Homo sapiens: one gene and its partners. The protein of the gene in region 2 purifies or fractionates together with the protein of the main gene of each other region. This does not show direct contact. Each region holds a gene or a part of one and is shown on either strand. Other genes may lie near its edges.

What was found. Proteins that work in one complex are often made in the same cells at the same time.
Region 1: the proteins of UBALD2 (region 2) and ZNF217 purify together in Homo sapiens (affinity purification with mass spectrometry; one large-scale study listed by BioGRID and IntAct). This does not show direct contact.
Region 3: the proteins of UBALD2 (region 2) and ZNF430 purify together in Homo sapiens (affinity purification with mass spectrometry; one large-scale study listed by BioGRID and IntAct). This does not show direct contact.

Annotation. Positions count from the first base shown.
Region 1 is NC_000020.11:53,572,768-53,577,529, reverse strand, and holds part of ZNF217 (zinc finger protein 217), read left to right. Parts: intron 1-249; coding exon 250-1,803; intron 1,804-2,221; exon of another isoform or gene 2,222-3,172; intron 3,173-4,673; exon of another isoform or gene 4,674-4,762.
Region 2 is NC_000017.11:76,263,656-76,269,060, forward strand, and holds the start of UBALD2 (UBA-like domain-containing protein 2), read left to right. Parts: upstream 1-1,692; 5' UTR 1,693-1,850; coding exon 1,851-1,970; intron 1,971-2,251; coding exon 2,252-2,314; intron 2,315-5,405.
Region 3 is NC_000019.10:21,018,836-21,024,028, forward strand, and holds the start of ZNF430 (zinc finger protein 430), read left to right. Parts: upstream 1-1,821; 5' UTR 1,822-1,965; coding exon 1,966-1,968; intron 1,969-3,953; coding exon 3,954-4,046; intron 4,047-5,193. UniProt on the Homo sapiens protein: May be involved in transcriptional regulation.

The DNA.
Region 1 (4,762 bases), on a different chromosome or scaffold from region 2:
TCCCTAGGGCTGTTAGGAAGATTAAATAAGTTAGAAGTGTTGCTGTTAATTTTTCTATTGAAGATAGGCATTCATAATTTCAAATATTCATTACAGTAAGGATGATAAAGAACTGATGAGAAATCCTATGTGATAGTAGATCGAGAAAGCAAAAGGAGGAAAGAAGCCTGTTTTCTTAATAAATAGATATTTGATCTATTTCAGTGCTTTTCATACACTTCTATAATAAAGTGCCATTTCTTGCCTTAGGTGAAAAACCATACAAATGTGAATTTTGTGAATATGCTGCAGCCCAGAAGACATCTCTGAGGTATCACTTGGAGAGACATCACAAGGAAAAACAAACCGATGTTGCTGCTGAAGTCAAGAACGATGGTAAAAATCAGGACACTGAAGATGCACTATTAACCGCTGACAGTGCGCAAACCAAAAATTTGAAAAGATTTTTTGATGGTGCCAAAGATGTTACAGGCAGTCCACCTGCAAAGCAGCTTAAGGAGATGCCTTCTGTTTTTCAGAATGTTCTGGGCAGCGCTGTCCTCTCACCAGCACACAAAGATACTCAGGATTTCCATAAAAATGCAGCTGATGACAGTGCTGATAAAGTGAATAAAAACCCTACCCCTGCTTACCTGGACCTGTTAAAAAAGAGATCAGCAGTTGAAACTCAGGCAAATAACCTCATCTGTAGAACCAAGGCGGATGTTACTCCTCCTCCGGATGGCAGTACCACCCATAACCTTGAAGTTAGCCCCAAAGAGAAGCAAACGGAGACCGCAGCTGACTGCAGATACAGGCCAAGTGTGGATTGTCACGAAAAACCTTTAAATTTATCCGTGGGGGCTCTTCACAATTGCCCGGCAATTTCTTTGAGTAAAAGTTTGATTCCAAGTATCACCTGTCCATTTTGTACCTTCAAGACATTTTATCCAGAAGTTTTAATGATGCACCAGAGACTGGAGCATAAATACAATCCTGACGTTCATAAAAACTGTCGAAACAAGTCCTTGCTTAGAAGTCGACGTACCGGATGCCCGCCAGCGTTGCTGGGAAAAGATGTGCCTCCCCTCTCTAGTTTCTGTAAACCCAAGCCCAAGTCTGCTTTCCCGGCGCAGTCCAAATCCCTGCCATCTGCGAAGGGGAAGCAGAGCCCTCCTGGGCCAGGCAAGGCCCCTCTGACTTCAGGGATAGACTCTAGCACTTTAGCCCCAAGTAACCTGAAGTCCCACAGACCACAGCAGAATGTGGGGGTCCAAGGGGCCGCCACCAGGCAACAGCAATCTGAGATGTTTCCTAAAACCAGTGTTTCCCCTGCACCGGATAAGACAAAAAGACCCGAGACAAAATTGAAACCTCTTCCAGTAGCTCCTTCTCAGCCCACCCTCGGCAGCAGTAACATCAATGGTTCCATCGACTACCCCGCCAAGAACGACAGCCCGTGGGCACCTCCGGGAAGAGACTATTTCTGTAATCGGAGTGCCAGCAATACTGCAGCAGAATTTGGTGAGCCCCTTCCAAAAAGACTGAAGTCCAGCGTGGTTGCCCTTGACGTTGACCAGCCCGGGGCCAATTACAGAAGAGGCTATGACCTTCCCAAGTACCATATGGTCAGAGGCATCACATCACTGTTACCGCAGGACTGTGTGTATCCGTCGCAGGCGCTGCCTCCCAAACCAAGGTTCCTGAGCTCCAGCGAGGTCGATTCTCCAAATGTGCTGACTGTTCAGAAGCCCTATGGTGGCTCCGGGCCACTTTACACTTGTGTGCCTGCTGGTAGTCCAGCATCCAGCTCGACGTTAGAAGGTATTGCATGAGGGGCGTCGTGTTTAAATGGCTGCCTACAGTGATTAATAGCTAATCCAGGCATTCTCAGTGGAGATGGTACCACTCCCAAGGGTGGGGGGTAGGCAGCCAGAAGTTCTTGGGGGTCACAGAGAGAAGCATTCTTAGATACGGCAGTGGTTTGTGGTCCTCCAAGGCTTACTTAACTCTGTGGGTTTAACTCTTAACCCTGTGTATTTTATTCTTTTGATTTGTTTAGTCTTACTTTATTTTTAGAGAAAGGGTCTTGCTCCGTCATCTAGATTGGAGTGCAGCGGTGTAATCATAGCTTACTGTAGTCTTGAATTCCTGAGTTCAAGAGATCCTTCTGCCTCAGCTTCCCAGGTAGCTGAGACTATATGTGCTGCTACCATGCACAGCTGATTTTTAAATTTTTTTTGTAGAGATGGAGTTGCCCAGGCTGGTCTTGAACTCCTGGCCTGAGGTGATCCTCCTGCGTTGACCTCCCAAGTATCTTAGACTACAGATGCACTCCACCACGCTTGGCTAACTTAAATTTATTTTTTTGTAGAGACAGGGATTTGCTTTGTTGCCCGGGCTGGTCTGAAACCCCTGGCCTCAAGTGATCCTCCTGCCTCGGCCTCCCAGAATGCCAGCATTACAGGCGCGAGCCACCATACCCAGCCTTATTCTTGAGTAATTTTTCTTGTCAATTTTATTTTTCTGTTGTGAGAGTGATCATGGAAACAGTGGGTGAGAACACTGGTCTGTCTAGTCCATTCTTGTCTTGCTGTTGAAATTCCAGATGCAGCCAGTTGAGGCCCCAGCTTGCCTCACTTCATCACAGCCCTTTTTCTTCCTTTGCACATGTATGGTGTGCTCAGTAGTCAGTGCCAATCCACCTGGAGTTGCGGGGGTTTTTTTTTTCTTTCTTTCTTTTTTTTTTTTTTTTTGAGACGGAGTTTTGCTCTTGTTGCCCAGCCTGAGTGCAGTGGCACGATCTCGGCTCACTGAAACCTCCTTCTCCTGGGTTCAAGCAATTCTCCAGCCTCAGCCTCCTGAGTAGCTGGGGTAATAGGCACGTGCCACCACGCCCGGCTAATTCTTGTATTTTTAGTAGAGACAGGGTTTCAGCATGTTGGCCAGGCTGGTCTTGAACTCCTGACCTCAGGTGATGCACTGGCCTCGGCCTCCCAAAGTACTGGGATTACAGGTGTGAGCCACCGCGCCCAGCCTAGGGGTTCTTCCTCACGCATTTTACCATTCCCTGCTGGCCTGTAAACTTCTTAAGAGCAGAAACCATGTTTTACATGTACAGCATCAAGTCACATGCTTCCCACACGGGGCAGAATAGGGGGCGCCCAGTAAGGACCACACGTGGACCCTTGACCTGGCAAGAGCAGAAAGCAAAAGAACTTCCGATTAAAGAGTCTTGTGAACCGTTTTGCTGTTAAATGTTGTCAGCCCTCCATATCCTTGGGTTCTGCCTCAGTGGATTCAACCAACTGCGGGACTAAAATATTTGGGGGAAAAATGGATGGTCGCATCTGTACTGAACATCTGCAGTTTTCTTTTCCTTGTCGTAATTCCCTAGATAATACAGTATAACAACTATTTACATAGCATTTACTTCATATTAGGTATTATAAATAACGAAGAGATGATTTTTTTTTTTTTTGAGATGGAGTCTTGCTCTGTTGCCCAGGCTGGAGTGCAATGGTGTGATCTCAGCTCACTGCAATCTCTGCCTCCCAGGTCCAAGCAGTTCTCCTACCTCAGCCTCCCGAGTAGTTTGGATGCAGGCACCCACCGCCACGCCAGCCTAATTTTTGTATTTTTAGTAGAGACGGCATTTCGCCATGTTGGTCAGGCTGGTCTCGAACTCCTGACCTTAGGTGATCCTCCTGTCTTGGCCTCACAAAGCGCTGGGATTACAAGCATGAGCCACCATGCCCAGCAGTGTAGAGATGATTTAAAGTATATGGGAGGTGCTGGATGTGGTGGCTCACATCTGTAATCCCAGTACTTTGGGAGGCTGAAGCGGGCAGCTCGATTGAGGCCAGGAGTTGGAGACCAGACTGGTCAACATGGTGAAACCCCGTCTCTACTAAAAATACAAAAATTGGCTGGGTGTGTTGGTTTGCACCTGTAATCCGAACTGTTTGGGAGGCTTAGGCATGAGAATCGCTTGAACCGGGGATGCGCAGATTGCAGTGAGTAAGTCTAGATTGCACTGTTGCACTCCAGCCTGGGCTAAAGAGTGAGACTCTGTCTCAAATAAATAAATAAATAATAAGTAAGTAAAGTATATGGGAGGATGTGAATAGGTTACGCTACAATACTGCAAATTAATAGTACTACAAGGCCAGTTGCGGTGGCTCACGCCTGTAATCCCAGGACTTTGGGAAACAGCCTGACCAACAATGGAGAAACCTCGTCTCTGCTAAAAATACAAAATTAGCTGGGTGTGGTAGCGCATGCCTGTAATCCCAGCTACTCCAGAGGCTGAGGCAAGAGAATCACTTGAACCTTGGGAGGTGGAGGTTGCGGTGAGCTGAGATTGTGCCATTGCACTCCAGCCTGGGCGACAGAGCGAGACTCCATCTCAAAAAAAAAAAAAAATAGTACTACAGATACTATGAATACTGCAGATACGACACTGTTTTATATTAGGGACCTGAGCATCCATGGATTTTGGTATCTGTTGGCTGGGGTGGTGGGGGCGGGTGGTCCTGGAGCCAGTGCCCTCTGGATACTGAGGGACAACTGTATTAATTTAAAACCAACCTTATTTCCCCCATAGGTAGATTGTTAACCTCATAGATGACTGGGGTTTTCCCCATAGAAATGTGTCCTGGTGGTGTCACTTCGTACAGGTGTCTGGCACATACCTGTATGTGTAAAAAAGTAGCTCAGTGTCCCAGGGACATCTTCTCCTTGGCAAACTCGGTCAAACTGCAGCATCTTCCTTTATCACATA
Region 2 (5,405 bases):
TTAACAGTGAATCCCTAACAATATTTATCTTCCCAATCTCTTCTGCCCCTTCCCCAATCTGCTTAAACTCCTAGTTCTTTTCCTACCCCCACAATTCTCAAACACAGCCCTGAAGATCAAACTCTAATCCAGAAGATGGAAGCTCAGCACATACAAACAAATTTGGGGCCAGGCATGGTGGCTCACACCTGTAATCCCTGTGCTTTGGGAGGCTGAGGCAGGAGGATCACTTTAGTCCAGGAGTTCAAGACCAGCCTGGGCAACAATAGTGAGATCTCATCTCTACCAAAAATTCAAAAATTAGTCAGGCATGGTGGTGTGTGCCTGTAGTCCCAGCTACTCGAGAGGCTGAGGCAAGAGGATCGCTCGAAGTTACAGTGAGCCATGATCATGTCACTCTAGCCCTATCTAACAACCACCACCACCAAATTTTGGACTTTAAAGGGCTACCACTGAGAAACAGTATCTCTGTAGAAACACTCACTGTTTGTTATTGTTTGTTTTTATTTGGTAGAGATGGAGTCTGTGCTATGTTGCCCAAGCTGGTGTTGAACTCCCGGCCTCAAGTTATCCTCCTGTCTCGGCCTCCCAAAGTGCTGGGATTATAGGTGTAAGCCATCCCAACCCCAGACTCCACCCCTACTGCCACCCGTTGTTTTTTTAAAAGATGGTAGAAATTAAAGCTTCATCTTAGCTTTCGTGACAAGCAAGAGAAAAAAAAAAAAAGAAAATTAAAGCTTCAGTTAGGTCAACCGATTTAACAAGAAAAAATTCTTGACTTGGCATTTTGGCCACTGAGAAAGTCTCACTTTTTTCCTTGCATATTTCCTTGCATATCGTATTTATTGTACATAAATCTTGGCTTCCATCTTCAGAGAGCAAAGTCTTTGGTCTAAAAACTGAGAAAATACTGCTCGATCCTTGCGGTGGGTAGTGATTAGAAGAGGGCAGGACGCGGGTTCCTAGGGTGCAAGTAACGTTCTGTTAATTGATCTGGGTGTTCACTTGGTGAAAAGTCTGGAAGCTGTACCTGCGACATCGCACTTTCCTAATGTACGTTATATTTCAATAAAAGATTTTTTTAAATTGGACTGCTTGAAAGTTATTTTTAAAAATTACATGCTTTTGAGACTTGAGCAGCTGCAAAGGCTCTGTTTTCTATTTTGATCATTCTGTTTCTCGAGATGACCACATCTTTCAGAGGAAATGAGTCAAAGCCACTCTGTCTTGCTTTTCCAGCTGAGCATGTTCTGTTTCAATGAAGTAATGAATGAACTTGGCCGCACCACCCCCAAGCCTACAACAGCAAACAGAGGGCCCTCGGCCAATCAGCAGGCACTCCGGGTTTTCAAGTTGAGTTCAAACAGGACCACCGGAGGCCAATCAGAGTGCGCGGCCCCGCCCCGAACGCCCGGCCGTGACCAACCACGAGGCCGGATGAGCCAAAACACAGCGGCCGGCCAATGCTGGGGAGCCCCACGGCGCCGAGCTCCGCCAATGGGCGCGGCCGGGCGAAAAGAGAAACAGTGAGGGCCCCACAGGCCGCAGGATTCGAATCGAACGTCCTTACGGGAGCCGGGCGCTGGCGGAGCGGCGCCCCGGCCAATCAGCGGCAGTCCCCGAACGTTGGGCCGGCCCAGCCCCGCCCCGCGCTGTTGTTTGTGGTGTCGGCCGGGCCGCGGGAGTCGAACCACAACATTCGCCGGGCGGGCGGCGGCGGAGCGGGCGGCGGAGCGGCGGCAGCAGCGGTGAGCGCGAGCCCCGGAGCCCCGGGCGGCCGGCCTCCCGCGCCCGCGCAGCCCCGCGTCTGCGTCCGGCCGGAGACGCCGGGCCCCGCGCCGCGCCGCGCCATGTCGGTGAACATGGACGAGCTGCGGCACCAGGTCATGATCAACCAGTTCGTGCTGGCCGCGGGCTGCGCGGCCGACCAGGCGAAGCAGTTGCTGCAGGCGGCCCACTGGCAGTTCGAGGTGCGAGCCTGGCCGCCGCGGGGCCGGGCCGCGGGGGTCGGGGACGCCGGGCGGCGGCGGGGGCGGGGAGCGCTCCTGTTGTCGGCCCGGAAGGCGATCGGCGCCCGCGAGCGGGTCTTACGCGGGACCGGGGCCGGGACCGGCTCCCCTCTGCACGTGGGGCAGCCGAGGGTCGGGGGCCGCGGGCCGGGCGCGGAGGCGGGGAGAGCCGGTGGGGGGCCCAGCCGCTGCGTTTCCTGACTCCGCCTGGCCCGCCGTGTCACTGCCCTGTTTGTCCGCAGACCGCGCTGAGCACGTTCTTCCAAGAAACCAACATTCCCAACAGCCACCACCACCACCAGATGGTAAGCGGCGGCGGGCAGGGGCGCGGGCCGGGGCCGCTGTCAGCGCGGCGGTGACAGCCATGTTGCCGGGGAGCGCCGCGCCGCGAATGTAAACAAAGAGCCAAAATGTCTTCCAGGAAAGAGCGGCTCCCGGGCCGGCGCTGGCGCCTCCAACTTTGAGGCCCGCCTCCCGGGCTGCTGCTGCTTGGCCTCGGGACTGGTGCCCGGCACTGGTCCCTGGGGGGAAGCGGCGCCAAAGTTGGGGGGAGGGGGAGAGGGCCGGGGGCCTGGCGAGGGGCTCAGGAGCTGGGGGACCCCAGAGCCAGGGGATGGGGAGGGGGAGAGGGTGATGCCCGGACGTCTGGGGCACTGGGAAGCCCGCGCGAAGGGCCCAGGGAGGGCGATGGGGGTGCTTGTGTTTATGGGGACCCCCTCGTGCTGTTGAGTGGTTTCCCCCCTCCCCCTCCACACACACACACACCCAGCGCTACAGGGAACAGGAAAGGCATGAATCCACCCTGGCTCAGGAAGCCGGGCTCTACCCACAAAGATCTGTTCAACCTTCCGAAGCCCAAGGGGACTGGGAAGTTGGAAGGACATACATCCCCCAAGCCAGGAGGACACACAGATTTTGACCCAAGATAAGGCCAGGAATGTGTCTTTAATCTCTGTGTTGAGCTCCACCAGCCCAGCACACAGAGAAGTGGTCCGGGGTCTGGATTTGCTTTCTTTTTCATTCTAGCCCAGGCCCAAGCTTTTGCCCTCCTGGCCATGGGGTACTCTGCTTTCTTGAGGCCCAGGACATCTCTCCTGTACCCTACCCCCCTAGTTACCTATTAGCCCTGCTGGGGGAGGAGGGGCAGGGCTCAGCGATAGGGATCTTAAAACATTGTTCCCCAGGAGAGCTGTTGTGGACTCTAGGTGCATTTTTGGGATTTTTAACACTTGGTGCCCTTGCCTTTGGCTCTCTGTTTTCATCTAGTCACAGAGGACAAGTAGAGGGGTCTGTCTTGACCTTGTTAGCTAGTTTTTCTCAGAATGGCTGATGCTGTATATAAATCAAGCCAAAATGGCATTTGAGTATGATGGGAGCATGGTGCTGGCCACAGGGCTCTTAGAAACCCAAGAGGGTTTCATCTCCAGGGGACACCGTCCCCTGCACTTGACCAGGAGAAATGGCCAGCACCCGCCTATGCTTGAGTCTCGAAGCTTCCTGCCATCTCCTGTCACCGGATCCTTGAGATTTCCTTCCACCAGCTGTGGCCATCCCAAAAAACTCAGAACTTCCAGATACTACAGCCATTCTGAGGGGCTGAGAACAGGGAGGCTCCCCAGGAAGAGCTGGTCTGGCATCCTGTTTAGTTCCTATTGCCCCTCCTCTGCAAATCCCAAGGAGATGCTAAGTCTCTTTTGAAGCTTCCCTCAAGGAAGGCAGCAGGTTTTGTAACACACATAACCAGTGTGTCCATCAGTGCCCAAGTCTGAGTGCCTTAGCAGCACAGTGGAGGACACCATCCCTGCTCTCAAAAAGTTCATGGTTTCTTTTTTTTTTTTTTTTTTTTTCTAATTTTATTTTTGAGAAAGGCCAGGGCAGGGGGAGTCTCTATGTGGCCCAAGCTGGTCTTGAACTCCTGGCCTCAAGCTATCCTTCCGCCTCAGCCTCCCGAAGTGCTGGGATTATAGGTGTGAGCCACTGCACCCAGCTGGCAATTTCTTTTCTTTTTTTTTTTTTTTGAGACAGAGTTTCACTCTTATTGCCTAGGCGGAGTGCAATGGTGTGATCTCGGCTCACCGCAACCTTCACCTCCTGGGTTCAAACGATTCTCCTGCCTCATGGGATTACAGGCACGTGCCACCTGTAATCCCACACCTGGCTAATTTTGTATTTTTAGTAGAGACGGGGTTTCTCCATGTTGATCAGGCTGGTCTCGAACTCCCAACCTCAGGTGGTCCGCCTGCCTCGGCCTCCCAAAGTTCAGGGATTACAGGCGTGAGCCACTGCACCCGGCCTGGCAATTTATTTTGGACAAAGTAAGTCAAAGGAAAAAGATCAAAAAACGAAACACTAGAGACCAGTAACAGCAAAATGGCAAAACCAGAAGTCATGAGTAACTGATAAATGGTTGTCCCGTACATTACTGTAGATTCCCATAGTTGGAAGCTTCCCAGTTGATAAGGAGGGCTTCCCAGTTGGAAGTGGAGAAAGGCACTACAGACTTGAAGTGGGAGGACAAAGGTACAGGGGACAATGGGTTTTCTTGAGAACTGGCCGAGAGGGCATATCTGGTTCAAAACCCTCATTTTACAAAAGCAGAGAGAAGCTCCAGAGAGGTTCAGGAACTTGCCCAAGCTTACACAGGCAGGCCACCACAGGCCTGCCAGCCATCATCCCTGCTGTTCTCTGGCGGCTGTTTGAGGAGACAGGCCTCGCTGGCTGGCGGGGAACTGGGGAAGTCGGTCACGATGCTGTGATGCAATTGGCCTCCACCCCCACCCTTCATTCATTGTTTCCTGCTGCCGAGAAGTCATCCCCAGAGGGTGGGGGGGGGGCAGGGAGTAGTGGAGGGAGGAGGGGAAAGGTCTGGGTGGGGCCAGGCCTCTGCATTGGGTCCTTTGGCCTCCCCCTGAGGACCCCTAGAAAGGCAAGGGTCAGAGCTCCCTTGGTGCCCTGGGTGCTGACATGGTGTGGGGCTCAATGGACAGGGTGTGCTAGTGTCCCCATTCCATGTATGTTACACACCCCCTACACAACCTCCGGTTTCTAGCTGTGAAAGCTCCCTCTGTTTTTTTTTTTTTTTTTTTTGAGACGGAGTTTTGCTCTGCCACCTAGGCTGGAGTGCAGTGACGTGATCTCAGCTCACTACAACCTCCACCTCCCGGGTTCAAGTGATTCTCCGGCCTCAACCTCCCAAGTAGCTGGGATTATAGACGCCCATCACCACACCCAGCTAATTTTTGTATTTTTTAATAGAGACAGGGTTTCACCATGTTGGTCAGGCTGGTCTCGAACTCCTAACCTCAGGTGATCCACCCGCCTCGGCCTCCCAAAGTGCTGGGATTACAGACGTGAGCCACTGCGCCCTGCCAAAGCTCCCTCTTTCAAGGTGAAGAG
Region 3 (5,193 bases), on a different chromosome or scaffold from region 2:
TTAGAACTGAAGAAAGATATTGGTAGGGAGAGACTCTGCCTTCACTTCTGGCAGAAAAGGGATGTTCAGTTCATTCACCCCCCTGACATCAGAGCTGAACTTCAATGTGGCAGCTATTGGCCACGTGTGCCTCCTGAGTGACTGGAATGTGGCTGGTCTGAACTGCGATGTGCTAGAAAGGTAAAATACAGAGTTAGTTTCAAAGATTTAGTTTCAAATGTTTATATACATTATTAATAATTACACATTCCTCACACATTAAAATGATAATATTATGGACATATTGGGTTAAATTGTTACAATCAATTCAACCTGTTCCTTGTTTCTTTTTCAAGTTTGTCTACTAGAAAATTTAAGATTCACATGTGGCTCACATTTTATTTCAGAAGATTACCATCTTTTTAAAATCTGAGGCTGCCTCCTTTAGCCGGGAAGGTCATAAAATCTGAAATTTTAAAATAATTATTGTTACATTCTTTTCATTTTTGAATAGCCACTATATATATATAAATATAAATATATATAAAAATATATAAAAATAAAAATATAAATATATATAAAAACATAAATATATATAAATATAAATATGTATAATATATAAATATATAAAAATATATAAAAATATAAATATAAAAAATATATATAAATATAAATATATAAATATAAATATAAATATATATAAATATATACATATAAATATATAAATATAAATATATAAATATATAAATATAAATATATATAAATATATAAATATATATATATAAATATATAAATATATAAATATATATATATAAATATATAAATATTTATATATAAATATATATAAATATATAAATATATATAAATATATAAATATATATAAATATATATAAATATATAAATATATATAAGTATATAAATATAAATATATATAAATATATAAATATATATATAAATATATATAAATATATAAATATATATAATTATATAAATATAAATATATATAAATATATATAAATGTATATAAATACATAAATAAATATATAAATATATATAAATATATATATAAATAAATATATACAAATATATATAAATAAATATATATAAATATATATAAATAAATATATATAAATATATATAAATAAATATATAAATATATAAATATATAAATAAATACATATATAAATATATAAAATATATATAAATAAATATATAAAAATATATATAAATAAATATATATAAATAAATATATATATATATATATATATATATATTTTAGACAGAGTTGTGCTCTTGTTGCCCAGGCTGGAGTGCAATGGCACAATCTCGGCTCACCGCAACCTCCGCCTCCCAGGTTCAAGCGGTTCTCCTGCCTCAGCCTCCCGAGTACCTGGGATAACACACATGGGCCACCACAACCCGCTAATTTTATATTTTTTATAAAGACTGGGTTTCTCCATGTTGGTCAGGCTGGTCTCTAACTCCCGACCTCAGGTCATCTGCCCGCTTCAGCCTTCCAAAATGTTGGGATTACGGGCGTGAGCCACCGTGACCGGCCCCATATATTATTTATAAATGCATATGACCTTACACACAAGGTTAAATGCAAATAACCTCTGGGGTGGGCCTGGCTCAGCTCAGGGAGGAAGCCCTGTCAGAGAAGGATGCAGCCCAAGCTGTCACTCTTCTTTCAGCCCCGCATCTCATCACATCTTCCGTCAATCATGGCCTGAGGGGGCGGGGATTTAAATGTTATCCAATCAGAGACGCTAGGCAGGGAACCGTCCAATCAGGCACGCAGGTGAAGCGGACAGGGCGGCTTCCGGGTTTGGCGGGGCCTTTGTCCCTCGCTGTGGCCTGAGCTCCAGGTCTCGTCTTCAGCGCTCTGTGTCCTCTGCTCCTAGAGGTCCAGGCTCTGTGGCCCTGTGACCCGCAGGTATTGGGAGATCTACAGCTAAGACGCCAGGAACCCCTGGAAGCCTAGAAATGGTGAGAGTGCCGGGTCCGACATCCCCAGAGAGGGGAGGGGCTGGTTGTAATGGGTGGGAAGTGGCTGTGGCGGGACTCAGGCCTCCCGGCAGTCAGCTGCACAATCTGCGCCCCGAGTTCTTGCCCAGCTGGGCCTCAGTCCCCATCAGCCTTAAGATGGCGGCTGCGCTGACAGGCGGGCCCCAGCACGTCCCGTCTCTTCCTTGCGCAGTGACTGTGCCCTGGCCTGGAGCCCTCTCTGGGCAGCTCTGCATCCGCAGCGCCGCGTCTCTCCCAGACTGTGCAGGGACCACGGGAGGATCGTCACGGGAGAATCGTCACGGGAGAATCCTGACTTGGGGTGCGAGTTCATGAATGGGAAGAACTTTGGTCCTGGGTTCCTAGTTCCTCTTTTCTCCTATTAAAAATGTACAGACCGGGAGGGGTGGCTCACGTCTGTAATCCCAGTACTTTGGGAGGCCGAGGCGGGCGCATCACTAAGTCAGGAGAGTTCAAGACCAGCCTGGCCAGCATAGTGAAACCCCGTCTTTACTAAAAATACAAAAATTTGCCGGGCATGGTGGTACACGCCTGTAGTCCCAGCTACTTGGGAGACTGAGGCAGGAGAATCACTTGAACCTGGGAGGTGGAGATTGCAGTGAGCCGAGATAGCGCCACTGCACTACAGCCTGTGTAACAGAGCAAGACTCCGTCTCGGAAAAAAAAAATGTACAGAAGTCACCACAAAAATATTAAAGAAATTAATCAAAGAGTGATTAAAAAACTGTTGAGCACCCAGCTGTGGTTTGTAATTTGTTGTTCATGGCGGGGCTTGAAGGAAAGACTTTTATAAGGTGCATGATGAAGAAAGCCAAATTCAGTAATTGGTTAGGTACCGTTATGTAGTTTCTTAGTTTGTACAATAAAGGTGAAAATTTTCTGGTTGTGTAATCAGACCTTAATTGGCAGTATACAGTTGATTAAGCCTGAATTTTGTGTCTTTCAATGTAGTAATTTTCAAAACGATGCGCCTGAGTTAGATTTTTTTTTTTTTTTTTTTTTTTTTTTTTTGAGATGGAGTCTCGCTCTTGTCGCCCAGGCTGGAGTGCAGTGGCACAATCTCGGCTCACTACAACTTCTGCCGCTGCCTGTGTTCAAGCTTCTCCTGCCTCAGCCTTTTGAGTAGCTGGAATTACAAGCGCCTGCCACCCTGCCCAGCTAATTTTTGTACTTTTAGTAGAGACGGGGTTTCACCATGTTGGCCTGGCTGGCCTCGAACTCTTGACCTCAGGTGATCCGCCTGCCTTGGCCTCCCAAAATGCTGGGATTACAGGCGTGAGCTATCACGCCCAGCCACGTTAGATCTTTTTAAAAGTAGGAACCCAGGGTCTAGAGACACCTCAGTCTAATTGCCTGCCACTCAATTATTTTCACACTCCACGGGGAACTGATTTTCTGCTGCATTTTTCACCTGTGTCCCAAGCAGGGTCTTAAGTCTAACCCCCGTCCCCCATTTCTCCAGCCTCACTCTGGCTTGCAGTAAGATACTAAATTTCCAGTTCTTTCTGGCGTTCCCAAATGCCAACTTTTCCTACCTAATTCACATTATCACCTATTTGTCCTTTAGTGTACATTTTTTACACCGTATTTTAATTAGTTATTTTCTGACAAAGTATTAAATGGTGCTTTTAATAAGATTTGTTATCTGTTTGTAAATATTTCCCATGTGAAGAAAGCAAAGAATAATCCCCTGACACTGTGTTGTAAAAACTCTCTGTGCTTCTTCTCCTTGTATCTTCTCTGGGCACAGAGATCTTGTCTCAGGATGTTTTTGGGTCAGGGTTTTCCTTTGGAAACTTTATGGGGTGTTGTGTCCTCAGTCACCCTTCAGTTTTTTTCTGGTCCTGGGTTTCAGTATTGTCTGGGGATAAACCAAGATATCCGCCATGGTTATGTCAGTTAGAGTGTCTAGTGGATATCAGCTTCTGGGTTATTTTCTCCCATAGGAGAACCTGAAGTCTGGAGTGTATCCTCTCAAGGAAGCAAGTGGATGCCCTGGGGCTGACAGGAATCTTCTGGTGTACTCTTTTTATGAAAAGGTAACCCCTTGAGATGTTAAAATTGTCTTCACCCAACCCAGCTTTCATTTCTTGGAGACACATTGCTGGTCAACCAATCAGACTGTGGCATTGAGGGGAAAACAAATAATTTTTGCCTCTGGATTGTCTAAGGGGGCAGAAAAATAGTGAAATAACTATAGTGAAAGTAAAATAGTGGAAAAAAGTGGAACATTTGTGACAGAAAAAATAGTATCCCAAAAGACAAAAAGAAAAAGAAAAACACTGACCCCAGTGAGATGGCGTAAGAACTTGCAAAGTTAAATGCCCGTGGGACAGTCACTGGGGCATAGTGTGGTATCTCCTGAGTGGGTGGTTCTTGAGCACATAAGTGAGCAGGAGTGGGTGGAAGACTGTTTGAAGTGATTGAATGGCCTGACTTGAAACATGAGTCAGACACATCTGTTTTTTCATCAGCACTGCCACTCCCTGGGTTTGTCACCTTGAAAAGATTTGTTCATTTATTTTAACCTCAGTTTTTTAGCTGTAAATTCTATTAGTAGGGCTTGAAAGGTAGGAAAATATTTACCAAAGGCATAAAAGTGGTGGGTTTAAGAAAAAAAATAGTATCTAATAATATATTCCATTCATTAAAAATTCTCTATTCCCTTTTTACCCCCAGGGTGAGTTTAGGAATTTTCTCAGGTGTGTTTTTTATGGCTGGGTGATTTCAAACAGAATTCTAAGGCTCAGCTTTTAGAATGCTACCAAGGAAATGAGTAGGGAAAATCTCTGTTCCATTTTTTTGTAGAAAATAAATACATTTCTACAAGAAAATGTGGTAGATAATTGGTGAGTTACATACATTCATGAAAACATGAGTTTCTCTCTCTGCAGGGTAAATTTGTGACAGTAAACATCTCTGTTCAAATCCTGTTATCTTGATTTCTGAGTTTCATGCTAAATTTTATGAGATGAAACTTGGTACCACCTAGAAGTTTTCCCATATGACTAACTGTTTACTAAATGATTCTTAATGGAATTCATAAAATAATGCATACATTATGTGAAAGAAATAGATATTTTGCTTTTTTTATTGAGGTATAAATTGCAAACACCTTAAAATTTCCTTCCCTTGTATGAACACTGTGACTAATTTTGCTAGATTTTTCAAACACATAGTTTCAAA